Regions from separate parts of the Homo sapiens genome. Here regions 1 and 2 are each linked to region 3. The links come from fine-mapping of genetic effects on gene expression. A gene starts in region 3. Each other region holds a variant in brackets. All regions are shown on one strand. Distances are from middle to middle. Region 1 overlaps TRIM44 (tripartite motif containing 44). Region 2 overlaps TRIM44 (tripartite motif containing 44). Region 3 holds the start of TRIM44 (tripartite motif containing 44).

Evidence for each region. PIP is the estimated chance that this variant, and not a neighbour inherited with it, causes the effect.
Region 1: its variant is fine-mapped to the expression of TRIM44 in whole blood (INTERVAL, PIP above 0.99).
Region 2: its variant is fine-mapped to the expression of TRIM44 in whole blood (INTERVAL, PIP above 0.99).

What each region holds. Positions count from the first base shown.
Region 1 is chr11:35,804,621-35,812,806 of GRCh38, forward strand. TRIM44 (tripartite motif containing 44) reads left to right here. Exons shown (of 5, transcript NM_017583.6): 5 at 1,738-8,186. The coding sequence ends at 1,765. Among named protein-coding and RNA genes, the nearest start is that of LDLRAD3, 140 kb to the right of the region's middle. The variant T/TAAAAA (reference allele first, on the strand shown) is at 3,587.
Region 2 is chr11:35,707,046-35,715,231 of GRCh38, forward strand. The region is part of intron 2 of TRIM44 (tripartite motif containing 44); the gene reads left to right. Among named protein-coding and RNA genes, the nearest start is that of TRIM44, 48 kb to the left of the region's middle. The variant G/T (reference allele first, on the strand shown) is at 3,209.
Region 3 is chr11:35,658,956-35,667,141 of GRCh38, forward strand. TRIM44 (tripartite motif containing 44) reads left to right here and starts at 3,820. Exons shown (of 5, transcript NM_017583.6): 1 at 3,820-4,825. The coding sequence starts at 4,157. RefSeq lists enhancers at 3,477-3,796, 4,008-4,508 and a silencer at 3,837-4,216.

The sequences.
Region 1 (8,186 bases), 150 kb after region 3:
CAGTTCCAGCTCTGCCTTGATTCTGGTGAGAAGCTTTCATAAAAGACCCTGTGTTCCCTTTGGGACAGATGCCATTAAATACTGCTTCTTAATGACAGCCCACTGTCCAGCATTTCCAGCATGCACCCTTCATCCCATGATTGTATAACCAGCAGGAAAGGGGAGTGGAAACAGGGCAGAGTTTGGAATGGTGAAGATTATTGAGTTGGTTCTTTTGGCTCCTAGCATACACTTAACTTGCAGGACCTGTTTCTTGAAATGTTTCTGCCCTTAGTGGAAGTTCTAGAAATTTGCTGCCTAGGATATTTTCCCTTAAAGTCTTTCCCAGATGGATGCAAAAGAGCACAGGTTTTATATAGACATAGATAATCCCTTGTGAGATGAAAAATTTCTAGGTAATAGCTGGGAGCTGATGTTCTACAGGCCTTTTCCTTTTCTACCAGCTTGACCACTTCAGACTTTATCCAACTGAAACTAAACCTTGAGTTTTAAGGACACAGACCTTACTATGTGACCCTAGGATTTTACATCTCTTAGAGCTTCACTTTTTTCATCTGGAAAACGGGGGATAATAATAGCCCCTACATAATAGGAAGAATGGGTGAGTAACACGTAATTCAGTGCCCCGGTCCACAGTAAGCACTTGCTCAAGCTGGCTCTTGTTACTATTTTAAGGGCAGTGACCTATAGAAGAGGATGGGGAGAAACTAGGCAAGTTTGCTACGTTTGCTTTTCTGAGTGTGCTCATTCCTGCATTTTCAGGCTCTACCTTCTCCTTGCCCCAGTCCCTGTACCAACAGTGTTCTCTCCCAGGTCCAAGCCAGAGGGGCTGTAACTCTGAGCAGCTGAGGTACTAGCCATGCCTGAGGGACTTGACAACTATTTGACCACTGAAACATCACTAACATCTGGAATAACCTGGCCAGGGCAGTAATGACTGACCAGTCCCTTCAACTGTGTCCATCCCTCCCTCCCTTTCTTCCTGTTGTTTGTATTTCACTTCCTTTTAAAAACCAATTATTTATTGAGCACCTCTATGTGCCCAGCCCAGTGCTAGTGCTAGATATACATAGTTAATAAAGTGTTGCTATTCTTATATGCTGTAGTCATGGGTAGAGAGAAGAGTAAATCGTAAACAAATAAATTATGTAATGTGATAAGGCCTATGACAGACATAAGATAGAGAATCACCAGGGAGTCCTACTTAGTAGAGTACCTTCTCTGACGAGGTGGCATATGTCCCTATGGCATGAGTTGAAATCTTGGATTTTTTTTCCAAGTGCAGAGTGCCATTGAGAGTGCAGATGGTAGTAGCTTCTCCTTGTTTTTTCTCTCCTAACAGTAGATGGCTTAAGGCTTAGAGGAAATCATACACCTGATTTTTACCAGCAATTTATTTTGTCAGTTAAGTTTAAAAGAATTATGACTCTCACCTGCTCCTTTAAATAGCTGCTCACGTACTGTATACCAGGTACTGTGCATTTTATATGTATTCTCTTATTTAATCCTCTAGTAACTCAAGAAAGTAAGTTTTATCATCATTCCCCCTATGGCCAGATAAAGAAATCAGAATTTAGAGAAACGAAGTAACTTGCCTTTGGCCATATTGCTCAATCATGGTAGTTAAGACTTAATTCCAGGTATGTCTGACATAAAGTCTGTGCTATCAACCAGTAGACTAGGCTGCCTCCCTTCTTGTGATATCTTAACTCACCTGGTTCTCCTTTTCCTTTGTAGTGGTGCCAGTGAAGAAGAGGACACATGAAGGCTTGCTACCCCCAGTGGAAAATCATCCCCTCCCCTTGTGTGTATGTGACAGCGTGTATGTAACGGCTTCTGATTTCTGTGAAAGCTGCTCAGCAACAAACGTACTTCCACCAGATGTGTCCCCAGATCCACAGCAGGCACATATCTCTCCAAGGGATGACCAGTTTTATGCTTACTGTGTGCTTCTCATCCCCTGGTTGTGGTAGGTCAAGGAAAAGAGCCCCTTTGATCCACCAGGAGCAATTAAGAAAGGTCCTTCAGGTAATCCCTCAATGGCTGCTTTGAACTTACTCAGGAAAGCCAGCCCCCATAATATTGTATTACCAAACAGTATCGCTTTGTTAGGAAGGATCTGGAATAATCTTGAAGGGAAGTCAGAGTTTTCTCCCTGCCTATTAACAAAAACCCAATTTTGTTCATATTGAAGCATGAAATAAATGAGAGCAAGGTAGGGCCAAATTAACTCTTGTGGACAGTCCCTAAAAGTCCAGTTCTACATTTGTGAAAATTGTGGTGCCATGAATTAAGATGGATGACTGGAAAAAGGTGTTGGAGAAAGAGTTAAAGATGAGGAAGAGATATTTTTAGTATATGAAGTTATCCAGGACTTGATATTCATAATTCAGTGCTGTGGAAATGAAAAAAATGATTGAAGAGGTGGAACGGAAATGACCTTAGGGGGAAAAAAAAGGACCAAAGAAGTCTGATTAAAAGTTGAAATCAGTATTTCTGAATTCAAATTGCTTGAATTTCCAAAATAGTCAGTAAAGGATCTAATAGAACCAGAATTATTTGGGTGAATTCTGCAGGTTTTATGGGCTTGTCACAACGTGAAGGGCTGGAATGTATATTACCAAATGGGAATTTCCATTGTAGGTTTTTGCTAGTCCCACCCCCATTTTAGCCTAATTTGGCTTAAACGCAGTATGGGGAGAATTGTTCCCATTCCATGTGTTCTGAATTCAGCTCATCTCCCAGCATATAGATATATCCTCCTTTAACTCCGACCAGAACCCTTCTTCCTGTGGCACTCCCCACCCATAGACCTTCAGATCATCTCCCACACCCTGGATCTCACTCTCCTCTTAGTAACAGAGACACTCCTGAGGTTGGACTTCCTTGCTTTTCTCTACTTCCAAATCACAATTTCTTACAACCAAGCTTTGTGCTCCCGAGTAAGCAGGGATGTACTAGGGGAATGTAAAACTGCAAACTTAAAAACCTGCATCTTCTTGAAGCATCAGTTTTACTTACCAAATGGTTTAGAGTCATAAGATGACCTATTTTTATATAAAAGTTATATTATAGAATAAAATGTTCATACGCATAGACTGTTAAGATAAAAAAATAGGAATCTTGCAAGGTAATTCTTATTTGCAAGTGGGTTATGTGTTCACTCTCCTCTACCTTTATGGTATTTTGGTGTTCACTTACGAAGCATACAACTAGAACCATATCCAAGCAGACTCTGGGTTGCTGTTAACCCAGGGCCTAGACTTCTAGTGCCTCTGAGGCAGAACCAAAGGAGCCTGCACTGGGGGAAATCCCTTTTCCTGCCTGCCTGTCTGCCTGTGACCTGTGTACGTATTACAGGCTTTAGGACCAGCTGATTGTTATGCTTGCAGGATGGTTTTGAAACAGAAACAATACTTGTTTACTGTAGGAATCCTATTTATATTATTTTTCAGTCCTGTGAATGCTGTGAAAAGATTTATTCCTTTGAGGCCAGGAAGCTCCCAGGCATATATGCTTCTAGGTTAGGATTGTCCTGACTCACTAAAGATGCCAGGATATTGGGGCTGAGGGGAGTTTGAGGTGT[T/TAAAAA]AAAAAAAAAAAAAAAAAAGCATTTTTCTCTCAAACTGATGGCCAAGAAATGGCTAGGACAATTTTGGTGCTTTACCTATCTCTGCAAAGACTGGAGAATTTGGCATACCATTAATTACAACCACCAATCATATCCAACAAAAGTACCCTAAAAGAAGGACCAGTGGCCACTCTCGAAAAAATTTAAGTATCAGAAGATTAAAAAGATTTTAGGATTTGGAAGCTTGTATTGTCTTTCCCCAATAATCATTGTTTGATCTCCAAATAGTAGCCTTATATTAGCAATAGACAGATCATTGGTTCTCCATATCTGATCATATGTTACTACTTTGAATCAGTATTTGGGAAATTCAAGCATTTATGCAGTGGATATAAATGGAAATATAAAAATATTTGCCAACCTGTCTCAGTAACTTATCATATCTCTGTGATCCTCAAGGAAAGCACTTTTGCTTTTACTTAGAAAGCGTTTCAGATTTGCTTTATAGACTCCTGCTGTCTTCAGTACCTGATAAAACTTTAACCAGGGAAGCATTAAACACAGTGCAGCAGCTTTTGCCCAGGCTTCTAAGTTCCTGCCGGCAGCATTTATCAATGTAAGAACTAGGATGCTTCCTGCAGTGGCACTACCTTCCCCTAGAGCTGGAGCATGCTGCTTGGCCTTAAGCCCCAGCATGATGAGGCTTCCCTCCTGCCAGGTCAGTAAAAGTTAGAGAGCTCAGAATTGGGTCTTGCCTGGGTGCAGGTGGCAGGGTTTGCTGAAACCCCTAAAGAGAAGTCACCAAGGGAGGCAGGTAATGAATGTTTCCAGAATCAGTCGGATACTCATAGCAATTTCTGGCTATCTTTCAAATGTTGAATTTCTGGATGCTGAGAGGGACTTTGATTTGATATCATTAAATCCAGGACAGTCCCAAGAAGTGCTTGGAGTCTCGGCTCTGACAGCCCAAGAAGGGAAATAACTTGTATTAAGGAACAACTATGAGCCAGGCCCTGAGCTGTCTCTTAGATAATAAAACAGATGGGGAGTGGAAGAGTCATTTGCTTCAAGTTATACAGCTAGGAAATACTCAAGCCAAATCTTGAACGCAGCTCCCCCTAATTCTGTGGACAGGCACTTTGTACCACACACCATGGTCCACCTAAAAACAGAAGGATAAAAAGACTTCAGGTTTTCCCACTGTGTGCTGACCATCCCAATTTATGAATCTTCTTCAAAATGACATTTCACAGTTATAGTTAGGGCTCAGAAATGGCATTGAGGTAGCCTTATTTCTCCCCTTTAGCAGATGCTTTAAGTACACATTGCTGACTTGAGCCCACCCCCAGGAGTTAGGAGAACATTTCCTTTTTCATGCCATCTTCCATAAATAAGGTGTTTCTTGGCCTTCAAAGATATAGAACTTTGCAGCAGTAGTAAAAGTGAAGGGTGTTCTGCTCTCTACTCAACTTTATTTGAAAATGTCTGCAGCTTCACTCCTGTAGAAAAGGAAATCTTCATATTTTAGTAAACTTAGCCGCCAGTGTACTCTGTGAGGATGTGGCAATTCAAAGTCCAGTGAATCTGGACTCTCTTACTGATTCCTGGTTTTAGTGTGTGTGTCGGGGGAGTGTGTACCTATATATAAAGGACAAGTGTGATATGTGTGTATATGTATATACATACATACATGTCCGCACACACACACACAATATTTGAGAGCTAAGGAAAACTCAAAGCAGCCCCTTCATTATCTTGCGTACTACTTCAAAGATTTCTGTCAGCCCTAATTACAAGTGTCACCATATAGTTGGGGCTTAGGTACTTGCTTACAGGAAGAGCAATTCCCTAGCAAAGGTCATTAGCTCCTAAGGCACTGAGTCAAAGTGACAGCCCTGAAGGAAATTGCACTCCAGCCCTCCTCCAGGATGTCTAATAAGATGGGAAACTTGGATGCCCAGCCATTTTGGTGACCTGAGAGTCTAACTACTCCAGTTAGACCTAAGGGCACAAATGCAGAATTCATGACCTTGTAGTTGTGGCAGGGTCTAGGAAGTCCTCTCTCCCCAAGTAGAAAATATTCTCTTGCCATTCCTGAAATTCCACATTCATATAATGGCTGTGCAATACATGCTTCTCAATAAGAAAATTAACTGCACGTTTACTGTGTGCTGATCACATCAGATTTTTATGTTTAAAAAAATCTCATTATGGATTGAGTCCAGCCCAGCTCTAAGAGAAAAAGAAGGCCCATATGGGAGACTTCAGTCTCATTATTATTGCCTTTATCCAGCAGTGCTTATGAAGCCCCCTACCCTGTCCCATTCCAGAAACCATAAGACTCAGGCAGTTCTTGATTCTGGAGGCCTGCCTGGTAAGATAAGATAGTATAATTTGGAACTGAGAACATACCAGAAACAGCAGAACGAGGGCCAGAGCAGAAAAATGAAAATAAGTGGAGACACTTATGGATACATTGGTGCAAAAAAAGCCACGGAGCCCATACTGGGCTTGATATGACTTTGAGGGGACAGCAGATTAATACTTAATGAGGGTTAAACCTGACCAGTCTTTCTACAGTGACAGGCCACACTGCATGAATGGGGAGAACCAATGAATCCATTGTCCTCTGCCTATTTTCCTGTGCACAGTCACATTCCCTCCTTAGGAATCTTCCCCTTCCACCCTTTACATTAAACAAGGGAACACTGAATCTTTCAAGGGAATTACACGTTTGGGTTAATGTTTCAGTATATCATTTTCATACTGTAAATTATTTTGTAAGAGAGATTTACTGCTATCCCAGGATGTTCGGACTTGGTGCCCCTGTGCATTTGGAAATCAATAAACTATTACTGGAAATGCCATTTGTCTCTCAGAGTTGTGCACAAAGGACCCTGCAAGGTGTAAATATTTATGACGAGCTGCATACTTGACTGTGGTAATGCTGGAGATGATGGTGTTTTGGTTACTAGATGTGGGAGTCTAATTTACTCCTGACTTTTCCACAGTGCCTTAGGAGAGAGCTCTGGGAAGTGGCAAAAGAACAGACTTAAGATCATTATTATTTAGTGATAAGTTTTCTCCTCAAAGTAAAATGATCCAGGCCTAGATTACATTTTATGAGCAACTTAGATTATAACCTAAAGAATACTTGGTGCCAAATTATGTTTTCAAATAACATTAAAGTTTTAGAATTTGGATGAACTAGAAGGAAGGTAAAATTGTAATTTTTGCCATATTTTCTAGAAAAAAAAATGTCTTTTAGAGCAAATTACAGTTAGGCCAACAAAATCTTTGTTTTGTGAAACTTTAGAAATACATATTTGCATGTAATTGATGAAAACATAGAATGAGTTGTAAATGAAGCAATTCCAAGCTGGTTTGAAGGACCAGAGGTTGCATTGAAATCAGAAGTCATATACTCAGAGGCCTTCAGGAGCCAAATGTGAAGACTCAAGATGGTAGATACTGTGTGAATTAGAAAATACCAAGCCCTGCCTAAATGCATTAAAATTTAATGTTTAAAAATCCTAAAACCCACCAGCAGGTGTATCTGGAGGGACAGTTTGTGGACTCTCCTCTAAATTTTCTTTTAACACATTTATCTTCATCAGACCCTTTTAGTTAGCTAGGGACTGTGTGAGAACCTTGAGAAAATTGTCCAAGAGAGGGAGATAAGTCACTCAAGGTCACCCAACAAGCCAGGCTGGTAAAGCCCAGGACAGCAGACTCTCTGTCTCCGAGAGCAATCATTAGGCCCTACTTCCTCTTCCCCAGTTGCGGAGGACACTGCTGCCTGGTGGGGTGGCACTGCCTGCCACTGTAGCACTTAGGAGTCTTCAGTGTTTTAACAAACCACAATGTGTTTGGAGGTTTTCTTCCCTGCTTCCTGGTGCCAGTATCTCAACACCACATCCATTGCCCCAGCCCTTTCTTGTTTTATCTTTCCCTCTGAAAGCTACAACTCTATATTTTATTTTATTACTCTTTGTTTGGTCCAACATGGCCCCATTTCCTTTATACTCATAAAAAGGTAGAATTTCAGCTTGTCTGGAATATCTCCTGGCCTTCACAAGGCACCAGAGTTAGAGACACCCAACAGAAAGTCGTAATAAGAGAAGATGTCACAGAAATAGAAACAAAAGCAAAAGACTGCTTGAAGTCAGTAACAGACTGCACTAAGTGTCTGTGCTTGTTAACTATTGTAATCTCCAGGTTTAAATCATTCATTTATGTTAATAAGAGCTGTCACTTAGCTCTTTCTCTGGGCCAGGTACTCTCCTGTTGTTTTTCACATTATCATAATAGTAACAGCACCAATACTATCATTCCCCACTTTGTTGCTCAGGAATCAAATTTAGAGAATTAAGTACTGTGACCACGGTTACACCCTAATAAGCGGGAAGCCAGAATTTAAACCCAGGTCTAGCAGACTTCACAGCCTCTTTCCTTAATCTCTTCTCTCCTAGCTGCACTGATTCCATCTTGTATTGGTGAATAACAACACTGATCCCCCTACAACTACCCCCACACATGTACAGTATGGCCTTGGGGCAAAGGAGTTTGCCTTTTGCAAAGAAGGTCTTGCTTTGTATAGCCTGTAAAATGCAATGTACA
Region 2 (8,186 bases), 48 kb after region 3:
ATAAGCAACTTCAGCAAATTCTCAGGATACAAAATCAATGTACAAAAATCACACGCATTCTTATACACCAATAACAGACAAACAGAGAGCCAAATCATGAGTGAACTCCCATTCACAATTGCTTCAAAGAGAATACAATACCTAGGAATCCAACTTACAAGGGACGTGAAGGACCTCTTCAAGGAGAACTACAAACCACTGCTCAATGAAACAAAAGAGGATACGAAGAAATGGAAGAACATTCCATGCTCATGGGTAGGAAGAATCAATATCGTGAAAATGGCCATACTGCCCAAGGTAATTTATAGATTCAATGCCATCCCCATGAAGCTACCAATGACTTTCTTCACAGAATTGGAAAAAACTACTTTAAAGTTCATATGGAACCAAAAAAGAGCCCGCATCACCAAGTCAATTGTAAGCCAAAAGGAAAAGCTGGAGGTGTCATGCTACCTGACTTCAAACTATACTACAAGGCTACAGTAACCAAAACAGCATGGTACTGGTACCAAAACAGAGATATAGATCATTGGAACAGAAAAGAGCCCTCAGAAATAACGCCGCATATCTACAACTATCTGTTCTTTGACAAACCTGACAAAAACAAGAGATGGGGAAAGGATTCCCTATTTAATAAATGGTGCTGGGAAAACTGGCTAGCCATATGTAGAAAGCTGAAACTGGATCCCTTCCTTACACCTTATACAAAAATTAATTCAAGATGGATTAAAGACTTACATGTTAGACCTAAAACCATAAAAATCCTAGAAAACCCAGGCAATACCATTCAAGACACAGGCATGGGCAAGGACTTCACGTCTAAAACACCAAAAGCAATGGCAACAAAAGCCAAAATTGACAAATGGGATCTAATTAAACTAAAGAGCTTCTGCACAGCAAAAGAAACTACCATCAGAGTGAACAGGCAACCTACAAAATGGGAGAAAATTTTTGCAACCTACTCATCTGACAAAGGGCTAATATCCAGAATCTACAATGAACTCAAGCAAATTTACAAGAAAAATACAACCCCATCAAAAAGTGGGCAAAGGATATGAACAGACACTTCTCAAAAGAAGACATTCATGCAGCCAAAAGACACATGAAAAAATGCTCATCATCACTGGCCATCAGAGAAATGCAAATCAAAACCACAATGAGATACCATCTCACACCAGTTAGAATGGCGATCATTTAAAAAGTCAGGAAACAACAGGTGCTGGAGAGGATGTGGAGAAATAGGAACACTTTTACAGTGTTGGTGGGACTGTAAACTAGTTCAACCATTATGGAAGTCAGTGAGTGTGGCGATTCCTCAGGGATCTAGAACTAGAAATACCATTTGACCCAGCCATCCCATTACTGGGTATGTACCCAAAGGATTATAAATCATGCTGCTATAAAGACACATGCACATGTATGTTTATTGTGGCACTATTCACAATAGCAAAGACTTGGAACCAACCCAAATGTCCAACAATGATAGACTGGATTAAGAAAATGTGGCACATATACACCATGGAATACTATGCAGCCATAAAAATGAAGAGTTCATGTCCTTTGTAGGGACATGGATGAAATTGGAAATCATCATTCTCAGTAAACTATCGTAAGAACAAAAAACCAAACACTGCATATTCTCACTCACAGGTGGGAATTGAACAATGAGAACACATGGACGCAGGAAGGGGAACATCACACTCTGGGGACTGTTGTGGGGTGTGGGGAGGAGGGAGGGAGAGCATTAGGGGATATACCTAATGCTAAATGACTAGTTAATGGGTGCAGCACACCAGCATGGCACATGTATACAACTGTAACTAACCTGCACATTGTGCACATGTACCCTAAAACTTAAAATATAATAATAATAAAAAATAAATAAAAAATGAAAACACATTAAAATAAATAAATAAACATGCACTGATGTTGCCATGCCCCCCCCCCAAAAAAAAAGAACTTTACTGAGAGGAGGACCTCTACCCCAATCCCTTCCTTTACTCAGGTAAAACGTACCCCATTACTTATCCAAAGTCAGCCAATTGGTGCTGCAGTTTATTTCCTTTGGATGGGGATAGTAACTAAGCTGAAAGATTAGCAGATTTAATTTTTGGAGGCTCTCATTTGTAAATGCACTTCAGTGCATTGTTGTTTATTCAGAACATTCTACTGTAAGTTACCTTTAGTAAGATTTTGTCATTTTCTGTGAGACTTTGCTGCCTCCTGTGCCTAATGCATAAGCCAGAAGGAACTCAGGTTTTCAGAAGTTATGTATCCCATTTTTACATAAAATATTGGCTTTGCTCTCAGATTCCCTTGATTAACCTAGCCAATGATTTTTCCTACCTAAGTGGGCAAGAAAAATGAAACAAAGGGATGAAACAAAAAAATCCTTGCAAATCTTTAAGAGCTAAATTTTATACCCCTAAAATATTACCATTTGCTGTCAGTTTCTTTCTGACCCAGTCAGATGTAAGAGGCCTCTAACTGGATCCAAGCCAATTAATTACCAGACCAAATCCATTCCTGGACCCAGCCCAGTTTCCGTCATGACTTCCAAACCCAGTTTGGTTCAGAAATTTGCTCAAAGAAACTCGGAGAGCTCAAAATGCAAATCCGTGGGGCTCCAAAATCCAAGAGACAACTTACACTCCCCAGCTACTCTGAGAGATCAGAGGACACAAGTGGATCCTGTGGGCACCTTACTTGTTCACTCAGCACTCCTGGGGGTCGTTAGAAGCTATACTTCAGACCCCACTTCTGACACCATTTGTTTAAACAAAAACGTCAGCTGAATTAAATTTAAAGGAGTCTAATTGAAAAATGAACAATTTGTGAATCGGGCAGCCCCCAGAATCACAGCAGATTCAGAGAGACTCCAGGGATGCCTTGTGGTCAGAACAAATTTATAGACCAAAAAAAAGTAAAATGACATACAGAAATTGGAAGTGAGGTACAGAAACAGCTGGATTCATTACAGTTCAGCAGTTGCCTTATTTGCACACAGTTTGAACCCTCAGCAGTGTGTGACTGGATGAAATATGGCTGCTGGGATTGGCGAAGACTCAGTGATTGTTACAGGCGCATACTCCTAAATTAAGTTTTCAATCTTGTCTATTAAGTTAGGTTACAGTTCATCCACAAGGACTCAAATATAGAATTACAGAGTCCTTTTCAGGCCATATTTAGTTTGCTTTATATATATATA[G/T]AGAGAGAGCTTTGTATCCTACCTTTTTCACCTAAGGTTATCTCTTATAAATGGATACAATTTTATCATTTGAATCCTGTTCCATTGTTGAACCTCAATTTAGAAAACTGGGATTCTGAACAATAATTTTCCTGTCTACCCTTCAGCATTCTTAGTTGAGACAAACCCTTTTAACAAAGACAGATTATCAAGAGAAAAACAAGTTTATTAACATATATACCTCGTGTGTGCATGTGATACCTAAGGGAAGATAAGTAAATCCCAAAGAGGTAGCTTTGAGTTCAGGCATGAATACCATGGAAGGGAAGGCTAGTTATGGGGAGATGCCCAGGAAAAGCATAGTAAACAAAGGTAAAGTTTATTATGCAGATTTAAGTTGGTGCCTTCTCCATTTATAACATAAAAGAGTTTCTAGTGATTGGAAGTCATCCTTCTCTTCCTGGTATAGAGAGGGAGACAACCCTGCAAATGGAGATTTCCTTTACAGATGTACATTTCTCTTACAAAAGGGTAACTTCCCTTGTTTTCAGTACTTCTCCTGTATTTGCAGTTTCTCCAAATAATCAGCTCAAAACAATTCTTCTGCCAAAGAGGCGTATTTTGGGATGGAATATTCTGGCCTCCTACAGTCATATTTTGGGATAGCATATCTTGAACCCCATCAGTAGTTACTGACAGAAGTTATTCACAAAAGACCAAATATATGATTCTATCTATATGAAATGTTCAGAATAGGCAAATATATAGAGATAGAAAGAGACTCAATACTGTATGGGACTGAGGGAGGTGGAGGAATGTGGGGTGACTGCTAATAGCAATGGGGTTTCTTTTGGGGGTGATGAAAATGTTTTAAAACCAATGGTAATGATAGTTGCACAACTCTGGGAATATACTACAAACCACAAAATTGTATACTTTAAATGGGTAAATTGTAAAATATGTGAATTATATCTCAATAAAACTGTTGAAAGAGAACAAGATTACTGCCTGAATCAGTTTTTTCAACCATTCACTTGAAGTGTCAGCAGTGAATATTAATTTTCTTTTTCCTTTTCTCTTCCTGACAGGGATGAGGGTTAAAAACCTGATGTTGGCCTCTGACAGGAGGAGGCAGTATACTACAATTATTAAAAGTTCAGGAATTGCCCTATCAGCTCAATGCTATCTGACCTTGGGCAAATCTGTGCTTAATCTCTTCATTTCTCAGATTTTTTGTTTTTTTTTTTTTCAGTTCCAAAATAGGGAATAATAGTACATATTTCATAGGTTGTTGGGAAAATAAGTGAGATAATCCTTTTAAAGTGTTGAGTACATTAAGGAGACCCCCCATCTCTACTAAAAATTAAAAAAAAATTAGCCAGGCATAGAGGCACATGCCTATTGTCCCAGCTACTTGGGAGACTGAGGTGGGAGGATCTCTTGACCCCAGGAGATCGAGGCTGCAGTGAGCCATGGCTGTACCACTGCACTCCAGCCTGGGCAACATAGTGAGATCCTGTTTCAAAAAAAGTGCAGAGTACAGCCTCCTATAAATTGTGGCTGCTGTTAGCCTCCAGTCCGGAGAATAACCCTTACTTCCAGCAGAAGGGCAAGGGTACGTGAGGGCACCTTCCTCCCCACAAAGTTCCAGAAACCTTCCAAGCCTTGTAGAGAAAAATAAGCCACCTGTTTATAAATAATTCTATGCTTTGATCAATTAACACTTCCTAGGAATAATGACACCAATTGCATGTTTTAAAGGGCCATTGATACCTGTTTGAGTGATAATGACTTGCAAATAAATTGAGTTCAGTCTCCACTTTTGGGATCCCTTGGTGTGTGGTTTGTTGGCTCACTCACTCTGTGAGTGAACTTGCCTGGCTGCAGAGTAACTGGCAGTAGTTCAGCATAGGTCTGTTGCCTGTTCAAGTCAAAGCAAATGTATCTGCCTTGGGAGTGTGTAGTTGTGTGTCCATATATTCCCAATAGAAAGAAGAAATCAATGCATTGAAGCAAGTATGTTTATTGTTATGAAGCAGACTCCCTAGTTAGCAGAACTGCTTGGTGCCCAACTATAAGAAAAATAAAGAAGTTATTTTAGGAATAACTTTACTTAAAGTTATTTAAGAAACACATTAGGAAATATATTCCCACTTTAAAGTAAACGCTACTGAGATTCTTCACTCCCTACCTCCTCTTCTCCCTTCCCCTGCAGCTTTACCTTATCCTTCTCTTTCTTACTGGAGCCCCAGACCTCCTAATTGAACCACAGCACCAATAGATTATAGTCATTTAAAAACTAAGGTGGGCATGGTTTCCAAGCTGCCTGGTGGACTGGAGCATTGTTACAAAGCAGAGGGATTGAGCTTTAAATGGCTTAATAAAATTAACACTTTGTGATGTCTTCTTCCTCCTGCTCCAGCTCCTCTCTGCACTGACAGGAGACTTGATAGTATACTCTTTGCCAAAAGCTTGAAGGGCTGATTACACAGCGAACCTGGAGAGAGGAGTGAAGCTGTCAGGACTCCCCCATAGCAGCCACGCTTCAGGTTTCCAGTGCAGGATTGTATTTGACAGTTAATTTAGGAGCCGGGGTACCTAGATATAAAACTTTATTGTGATAATAGTGATAAAATCACCCAGACTTTTATTTAAGGGCCTGCTGCTCTCCTGTCCCCCTCCTTCCTCTTTCCCTGTTAGTTCAAGCTCTCATTCAGTTAAAGAAATAAAATCAGATTTGCTCAGGGAAAAAGGTGTTTTCTTTGATATTCTTAGACCAAACCTGCAGAATGCAACTCTCGGTCTACCTCAGATCTATATGTAGATGCTTATACATATATATAAATATAAAATTTGAGAACAGTGCCTCTCTCCTGATTGACTGCATTTAGCCAAAGGGCAGAATTTATCAGGTCTTTACACCTACGAAGAGACATTTCATTCAACCCAGTGATTCAGCTGATGTTCATCCCCTTGTTTAATGACTTTTGTTTACCTCTGCAGCAGGCAAAATAGATTCTACCATGTCTCCCTACTTCCTAACTCAGCCCATTTATTTAGACATTATGATCCCCTTTTATAAATGAAGAAACAAAGATTTAAGAGGTTAAGTGACTTGTTCACGAGGCTAAAGATGCTAGTAAGTTGCCTTTCTATGACTTCTATATAGAAGTTATTAACTTTTGCCTATAGAAGATGTATTGAGAATGGTATTCCAATGTAGTATTTGTTCAGACTTAAGGGTAAAAGTTTACATTGAATATGACATGCTTTTTTTTTTTTTTTGGTGAAAGAGCACAAATATTGGAGTCAGATGACATGAGTCCATATATTTCAGTTTTATCTATAAAGGAGGACTAATCATACTATATTTTTATTAATGAAGATCCTGAAAATGAAAACTTGTGAGGAGATAAGAAACAGTGGAAGATGATTTTGGGGACTTAAATGTATGTTAGCAACTGTAGTTAGTTTAAGAGCACTGTGGTTCTTGGGTAAGCAGGTTGTTAGCTCCTTAAGGGAGTAGAGTAGGGTTTCAGTCTACAAAGAAGAGAAAATACCATGAGAGGCAAGTTGTGAGATTGAGGAGCCAACTACGCCCATAGACTGACTTTGTGTAGGTACAGAGGAACAGAATGTGACCCATCCTTCCTGTGCTTTCTGTACTTTGCTTCTGTATCATTGAAGTAGACTGACCCTGAGATGTTGGGCAGTCAGATCTGATCAAATCAGAAAAGGCAGCCATTGCTCCTTGACACCTTGTGGCCATTTATTTGAAACTGAGGCAAGGAGCCTCAGTATTGATATCTTTACTTTTCAATGCCTAGGATGAGTAGGAAAGTCTTTTAGATGTTCCCTTGGGAAATTAGATCTAAACTCCCAAGGGCATAGGCTCCCTCTTTTCTTTAGGAAAGCTTATTGGGGACTCTTCTTCTGTGAGAGCTCAGTAGATACCATATGGGAGGCACACAATAAAAGTTCACAGTTACTATTATCTCTAATGAGCAGAATGGTTCTGCTGATGGTTCTGTGTGCCCGGAGAGCCCTAAGTGCTTTCCATGTATTATTTTGTGTTAAGTTTAGAAAAATATCTATGAGAATGTTATTATTACCCTCATTTTACAAAGAAACTTTTTATGGAGAAATTTTCACCTTTCTGAGCTTCAGAAGCATGGAGTTAGCAGAACCAGTCCTCAAACCCCTTTCTCTACTCTATCAAAGTCCATATGCTGTACCGTTGTGACCCTATGTAGGAAAGAAGACTCAGCAAACATGAGAGCTACGTCTCAGTGCCCTTTCCTGAGTATTTGTGGCAGTATGCAGTTGTTTTGGTGTTGTGTTTTAATAAAATACAAATAACTGTGGCTTTATAGGGAAACTGCTTGAGAGAACTGGAATGGAGATTGAGTCTTATTTTAAAATTGCTTTAATCTTCAGATAAAATAGGCTTTCTTTGTATATTCAAGTCTAACTTATTTTAAGTCAAGACTTAAAAATAGTATAAATTCTGTATAGTTGCCCCTCAAACTTTCAGTGTCACTTTCCACCTCCCACTTCTACACGATAGTTCCCGAAGCAGAAGTTGTCTTTCTAGTTTATGCATAGGCTAAGGTGTTAAGAAAGCAGGAAAACAAGATGGAATAGAAGCTCTCACCCTTATTCTTGGTTGTTACAAGTCCTGGGTGTCTCTGGGGACACATTCTTCTAGTTTCATATTCCTATAGCAGGGGCCACCCAGAATTTTTTTGTTTGCTCAGAAGTTTGTGATTGCTTTCTTTATTGCCACCCTGGGGTCAGGCAAAGAGAAGCAACTTAAGAGCAAGCATTAGTATTGAGTCATAGTGAACCCAGCATCCCCAGTGAACTGCTTTCTGTTGCATCCAATTCAGTGTCATGTCACTGGGTTACACATCAAGTTGTCATGGCAATAAAGTTATAGCAGCTGACAGTGTGAACAAGCAGCCCTGGGAGGAGAGGATGCTTGGCGGCGATGCCACAG
Region 3 (8,186 bases):
TCTTTCCTCCTTTTTGAGCAGGACTGTCTGTACCACTAATCTTTTTTATTTTTATTTTAGACAGAGTATTGCTCTGTCACCCAGGCTGGAGTGCAGTGGTGTGATCTCAGCTCACTGCAACCTCCGCCTCCTGGGTTCAAGCAATTCTCCTGCCTCAGCCTCCTGAGTAGCTGGGATTACAGGCATGCACCACCACGCCTGGCTAATTTTTGTATTTTTTTAGTAGAGATGGGGTTTCACCATGTTGGCCAGGCTGGTCTCCAACTCCTGATCTCAGATGACCCGCCCGCCTCGGCCTCCCAAAGTGCTAGGATTATAGGCATGAGCCACTGCGCCCAGCCTGTACCAGTTATCTTAAACCTGTCCCACCATTGCATGTTGGGGTGTGGGAGACATAGGCATTCAAATGAACTATACTTGAGGATCTGCACTTAAAACACTACACCAAAGTGCTTCATCCACACCTGGTCCCAATTTAGATGACAGGACTCCAGACTTTGAACTGATAATATAATGGGTTGAGACTTTTGGGGACCTTGGGAAGAAGTGAGTGTATTTTACATTTGGGAGATACGTGAATCATTGGTGGCCAAAGGGCAGACTGTGACAGCCAACCTCCAAGATGGCCCCAAAGATTCCCATCTCTTGGTTTTCAAGCCCTTGTGCAGTTTCTGCCCACACTGAATAGAGCTAATCTCTAACCAATAAGCTATGTACGAAATGATGGCGTGTGACTTCTGAACTTAGGTTATAAAAGACATTGCATCTTCCATCTTGCCCTCTCTTGGATCACTTGCTTTGTGAGAATTCAACTGCCCTGTCTTGAAGACATTCCAGCAGCCCTATAGAAAGTGGTGAGGCCTTTTGCCAACAGCCATGTGAATGAACCATCTTGGAAGCAAATTCTATGCTTGTAGGTAAGCCTTCAAGTGACGATAGCACAGCCAACATCTTTACCAAAATCTCTTGAAAGACCCTAAGTCAGAACCACTCAGCTAAGTCACTCCCAGAGTCCTTGCTCACAGAAACTATGTAAGATAATAAATGTTTATTGTTTTAAGCTGCTACATTTTGATGTCATTTTCTATGTAGCAATAGGTTAATATAACAAGGGTGCTATTTGTGGACACTCCCAAAGATACTAATTCCTGGGGAATCAGATGGTTCGGATTTCTCTGCAGAGGGGTACAGAGATCTGCCTCATTGAGTCTGCCACACCTTGTCACCAGAAATTTATGGAGTCCCTTTTTAATAGTTTAATCTGGCCAGGTGTGGTGGTTCATACCTGTAATCCCAGAACTTTGAGAGGTCGAGGCTGGTGGATCACTTGAGTCTAGGAGTTCGAGAGCAACCTGGGCAACATGGCAAAACCCCATCTCTACTAAAAATACTAAAGGTAGCCGGGCATGGTGGCACACACCTGTAATCCTAGCTACTTGGGAGGCTGAGGCAGGAGAATCGCTTGAACCCGGGACGCAGAGGTTGCAGTGAGCCAAGATCGTGCCAACGCACTCCAGCCTGGGCAAAAGAGCAAGACTCCATCTTAAAAAAAAAAAGTTTAATCTGTCTGCCTCTAAGACCCTTTCTCCACAGAGTGCTCAAGAAGAATTGTAAAGTGTCAGATACTGAACTGCACAGTATTATATTTTAACTTTCTGTCAGATAACATTAAGAAGAAACAGTAATAACAATAATGATGACATGACTCCCCCTCCCCTCATCAAATACCCTGGATACAACAATGTCCTTTTAAGATATTAAAAAGGCCAGGCCTGTGGCTCACACCTATAATCCCAGCACTTTGGGAGCCTGAGGTGGGAGGATCACTTGAGTCCAGGAGTTCAAGACCAGTCTGGGCAACATAGTGAGACCCCGTCTCTACAAAAAATACCAAAACAAGTAGTGGGGCTTAGTGGCTCACGCCTGTGGTCCTAGCTACTTGGGAGGCACTTGGGAGGACTGCTTGAGCCCAAGAGGCTGAGGCTGCAGTGAACTGTGATTGAACCACTGCACTCCTGCCTGGGCAACAGAGAGAGACCCTGTCACCAAAAAAAAAAATAAATAAAAAAAATAAAAATTATTTTCATTGAATAAAAGACTTTCTAAATGTGAGAACGTTATGTTTGTAAAGGCTAAGTTGTTTCCTTTTAAGCCTGGGGGAGGACAGGAGTAGAAATAACCAAGCAAGGCACACTTCTCATTAGGTATATTAACGTTGATGTTTGAGTTGACATTTGTTGAATTTTTTTTTTCAGAATGGTGCTTCAATTCATGTTTCAAAAGCAGACACAGAAATAATTTCCAGAGAAATGAGCTGGGGGAAAACAGAAATGTGTATGGAATTGGAACAAAATAAACCTGATTTTTTTCAACATTGTATAGAATTGTTCTGAGGTTAAAAAGAAAGGTTTCTAAAAAATAAATATCTAACAAAAGCTGCACAAAGATTAGGCATACATTATCCATGGAGACATTAAAAACTATTAAAAAGGTTTTTTTACCCCACCTCATCCCCTGGTATGTTTGAGGAAAGCATCTGGAAATTCTAACTCAAAATCATCTAAGGGAATCAATGTAAAACAGACACCATTCCATCCCCTTTCATCCTTCTTAATACACCTCAGCCTCTCCCTTGACTAGATAAAAACGTAATTTTCCCTCTCCCAAATACAGTGCAAAACAAAAACTCTTCTGTGAATGGAGAGACATGGATATGGGGTAGAGGTGGAGACTTGCCTACATTACCAGCAGCCAGCCGAAAATGCCCTGTGTGTGTAAAATATGTTCCTTCAAAGGGGCATTGTGAGCACTAAATATAATTTGTGCCAAAAATAATAATGAAAGCTTAGTGAATACTCTACAGTGCAGGCATCGTTACATTTAATCCACAAAACTACCCCATGAGGTAGATATTTACCGTTCTTTTCACTTAACATCTTTTTTAAAAAGCGGAAAACAGAATGATGAATTAACTTGTCCATGGTCATAAAACTGATAGGTAGTGGCACCAGGATTTGGGGACCATCGGGCAGAGGATCTTCCAAAACCGGCTTTTAAAGAGCCACAAAAAGATGTAGCCGGGTTCTTGGCACTACAGTACTGCTTTATAAACAACAGTTCCCTTCTTTTCTCTTAGAGCCCAGTGGGAATCTAGAGGGACACCTTACATAAAGGAAAATGACTGCAACCTGGACCTGTCACTCGACAAATACTGCCTCTCCCCACCTCACTTCACCTGACGTCTCTGCCCAACCGAAGGCAGCTCTCAGAAAACCGCACAGAGGTTACCACCCCAGAAATTCTGAGATCCTAGGAGGTAGCAATGCAAATAGACAAAGCACAGTATTGCTTTGGATCGAAAATATTTGTTTGCTCATCCTAACTCCAATTCCCCTAGCCTAGAACAAACATAGCCCTTCCGCACTCAGGAAATCCCAAGAGGTCAGGTTCAGTCTGGTAAACAACACTGTCCGGGCACCTTGCAGAACACTGGGGACTGTGACGGGCGGCGACAAATTGGCACAAGAGAGACTGAAATGCACAGGGACACCAGCCTAGTGGCCGTGAAAACTCAAGTTGACACTTCCAGGGAGGGAATGGGGGAGGTGGAGCCCAATTCCTGCTTCTGGAGAGAGTAAGAGACTTCCTCCATCCTCCTTCTCCCTCCTCCTCCTCCAAGGCACGCTGAGATTTGGAGCGGAGGAGCTGAGCCCCGCGGGAAAAGCAGAAAAGGGTCATTGCCACTTTAAATGACTCAGGAAGTAAAAGGAGGCCTCCTGACGGGGAAAGGGAAAGTGGAACCGGGGCGGCGCGGGGGCCGGCGGCTGCCGCGATCTCTCCCTGGTAGCGGGAGGCTGAGCGGGCGGCGCGACGCGGGGGCCGACGGGGGCGCCGGGTGGCCGCGCCGGAAGTGCCTTGCGCGGCAGAGGAAGCGCAGGGACAGAGCGGAGCAGGCCGAGCCGGCGGAAAGGGTCTTTGCTGCTGCGCCCGGGCAGGGGCTGCCGCGGCCCCAGGTCCCGCTTCGAGACGCGGCGCGGTCCAGGCGGGAGGCGACTCCCTAGGAAGGGACCCGGGGCGGGAGGAGGAAGTGAGGCCGCGCGGAAGGAAGGCGGCGAGCCCCGGGGCCCCGAGGCCTTGGCCGCGTCACAGCACCCACATGGCCTCTGGAGTGGGCGCGGCCTTCGAGGAACTGCCTCACGACGGCACGTGTGACGAGTGCGAGCCCGACGAGGCTCCGGGGGCCGAGGAAGTGTGCCGAGAATGCGGCTTCTGCTACTGCCGCCGCCATGCCGAGGCGCACAGGCAGAAGTTCCTCAGTCACCATCTGGCCGAATACGTCCACGGCTCCCAGGCCTGGACCCCGCCAGCTGACGGAGAGGGGGCGGGGAAGGAAGAAGCGGAGGTCAAGGTGGAGCAGGAGAGGGAGATAGAAAGCGAGGCAGGGGAAGAGAGTGAGTCGGAGGAAGAGAGCGAGTCAGAGGAAGAGAGCGAGACAGAGGAAGAGAGTGAGGATGAGAGCGATGAGGAGAGTGAAGAAGACAGCGAGGAAGAAATGGAGGATGAGCAAGAAAGCGAGGCCGAAGAAGACAACCAAGAAGAAGGGGAATCCGAGGCGGAGGGAGAAACTGAGGCAGAAAGTGAATTTGACCCAGAAATAGAAATGGAAGCAGAGAGAGTGGCCAAGAGGAAGTGTCCGGACCATGGGCTTGATTTGAGTACCTATTGCCAGGAAGATAGGCAGCTCATCTGTGTCCTGTGTCCAGTCATTGGGGCTCACCAGGGCCACCAACTCTCCACCCTAGACGAAGCCTTTGAAGAATTAAGAGTAAGTATTGGGCCTTCAGAGCATAAACCTAGGGGTCAGGACACCTGGGTTTCAACTCAGGTGGCCTGGCTGTGACCACATTCGCTTTCACTGTGTCCCTAAGAAGCTAGTCTTTCCAACTTTTTGGGAGCAGTTCTTATTCACCGTTTTTGGTTGAACTCTTTTGAGAATCTGATGAAAGTTCTGGACTCTGACCTGAGAAAATACACACAAAATCTAGTATACAATTTCTAGAAAATTGCAAGTTTCTGGTCTGTGGATCCCAGGTAAAGCATTTCTTGGGAGTTTTGACCCCACTTAGGCCAATTTCCACAGCATCACTATTGTTGAAACTGGTGCTTTGTGCTAGGGCTCTTGATAAGGCAATCTTTTTGCCTACTTGAAAACATGGGAAATAGGATTTTGCCACATGAATCCAAGCAAGTGATACGTCTGCATTGAAAAGACTAACAAAATAGTTTTAATAGTAACTTCATATGTGCCCCGAGTTCATTTTAGATTCTTCGTGTTTGAAACTTAGTAGAAAAGGAGGGTAAGAAGATGGAGGCCAAATTGGGGTGGGAGTGGAAGTTCCCATGTCCTCTGTCTGGATCTTTGTCTGTCGTGGACCTTACTGGTCCCCCAGAACAGTGGACACTTCGGAAATATTTGTTGAATGAATGAATTTGCAGACGATGCACCTTTTATTCATATTGTGGATGTTTACTATCATTGAGAGAAACTGCTGGTGTTAATCGGGGAGGGAGGGGGAAATTTTGAGTGGAGTGATCAGTTCATTAAGTAATCTGTATTAGTGAACATTGTCATATTATGATGACTTTTGCTTCCCTGAATAGGGAATAGCTGGCATTGGGATAACAAATACCTTGAGAGTGAAGATCCTCTGTATTAGGTTTTCCCTTTTTTAGTGCCTATTTATAATTGTAAAATGCACATTCAGAAAGTGTGTAAAAACTTACAGTCTAACAAATAATTATAAAACAAGTACTGAGGTAGTCTCCATCCAGATTAAGAAATAGAACATTACTAGCAATATTGAAGCCTTTTCCCCATACCTTTTCCAATTATAACCATCTCTCTTCTGCATAAGTAAGCATAATCTTGACTTCTGTGATCATTTCCTTGCTTACCTTTATGCTTTTACTCCATGTGTATGCATTCCTAAACTTATTTGAACTTGACACTATGGGTGTCATATTTTTATCATGCATTCTTCTGGGTTTTGCTTCATTTTCTCAACATTGTGTTTGTGAGAGTCATCCTATGAGTGACTGTAGTTTATTCACTTTCATTACTATTTCGAATTCCATTTTATGAATATGCCACAAGTTATCTATTCTGTCATAGATGGTCATTTGATTTGTTCCCAGGTTTGGGAGCGTCGGGCTGTTACAAACAATGTCAGTGTAAATATTCTTGGTCATGTCTCGGTGTACATTTAACATACATTTAAGTGGAATATAAACGCAGGAGTGAAATTGCTGTGTCAGAGGCTATGCATATCTTCAGTAATACTACATGTTGCCAACTATTTTCCAGAGTGGTTGTACCAGTTTGAATCACTATGAAGAGTATATGAGAGTTCCTGTTGCTCTGTATCTTCAAAACTTGCTATTACTGTATTTTTCATTTTTGTCAATCTTGTGGCTATGTAATGGTATTTTATTGTGGTTTTAATTTTCATTCCTCTGATTACTAATGACTTTGAGGATCTTTTATACTTCCTCTGTGAAGTACCTAGTCAGTTCTTTTGCCCATTTTTCTATTGAGTTGTCTTTTCTCATTATATGAGTTTTTATATATCTGTTTTTTTTTTTTTTTTTTTTTTTTTTGAGATAGAGTCTTGCTCTGTTGCCCAGGCTGGAGTACAGTGGCTAGATCTCAGCTCACTGGAACCTGCGCCTCCCAGGTTCAAACGATTCTCCTGCCTCAGCCATCTGAGTAGCTGGGATTACAGGCACATGCCACAATGCCTAGCTAATTTTTGTATTTTTTTTTTAGTAGAGATGTTTTTGCCATGTTGACCAGGCTGGTCTTGAACTCCTGACCTCAGGTGATCTGCCTGCCAAAGTGTTGGGATTATAGGTGTTAGCCACTGTGCCCAGCTATATATTTGTTTCTGATTTTTTTTGTTGTTCTTTCTATGTGGGTTGCAAATATCTTCTATGTGGTTTTTCTTTTTAAAGAAGTTGTGCCTTGAATAGAAGCTCTTCATTTTAATGTGGTAAAACTTATCAATACTTTTCCTTATGGTTAGTGCTTTTTGTGTCTTGTTCTACTTAGTATTGATTTTTGTGTAGTAGAAGTAGGGGCGCAATTTCATTTTTTCTCCATACAGATGGCCAATTGCTATTGCTGTATTTATTGAAAAGCCCTTCCTTTGTGCACTGATTTGCTGTCCCACTGTCATATATCAAGTGCCCATAATATGTGTGAATGTGTTTCTTGGTTCTTCTGTTCTCTACTGTTTATCTGTTAGTATATCCCTGTGTGAACAGCATGTTTTCTCAGTTATCCCTTTATAATATGTCTTAATATCTGGTAAAGCAGGTCCTTCCATCTTGTCCTACAAGAGTGTGTTGGCCAGTTTTGGCACTTTACATTTCTTAGAATCATAGTATTAAAAAGCCTGCAGGAGTGTATTTGGATATTAAATTTATAAGCCAATATAGGGAGAATTAATATCATTACAACATGAAGTCTTCTGATTCATTAATTTAGGTCTTTTTTATTGCTTCGCAGTTAAGTTTTATATTTTTTTCCTCAAAGATTTTTCACATCATTGTAAAATTTATTCCTAGATACTTCATAATTTTATAATATTGTAGAAAATATGAGCCAGGCACAGTGGCTCACACCTGTCAGCTATATGGAAGGCTGAGGTGGGAGGATTGCTTCAGTCTAGGAGTTTGAGGCTGCAGTGAGTTATGATCCTGCCATTTCCCTCCAGCCTGGTCGACACGGCAAGACCCTATCTCTAAAATAAAAATAAATGGTTTTAAGTTTTGTTTTCTAATTGAATATAGGAATATGATTAACTTTTATATATTGTTTTTTTGTGATCTATCTGCTGAATTATCTTACATATCCTAATAATTTATCTGTAGATTTATTCTACATACCTGATTGTATTATGTGTGAAGAGAGATACTTTTTGTTTGTTTCTTTTCAATCCTTATATCTGTTATTTGTTTTTTCTTGCCTTACTGCATTGGATAGCACCCCGAGTATTATGTTGAATGGATGTGGTTGGTGGGTATTCTGGCCTTGTTCCTAGTCTAGCAGTAATTGATAACATTGCACAAATAAGTGATATGTTCTATGGTTTTTGAAAATAGATATGTTTTATCAGTTTAAAAAA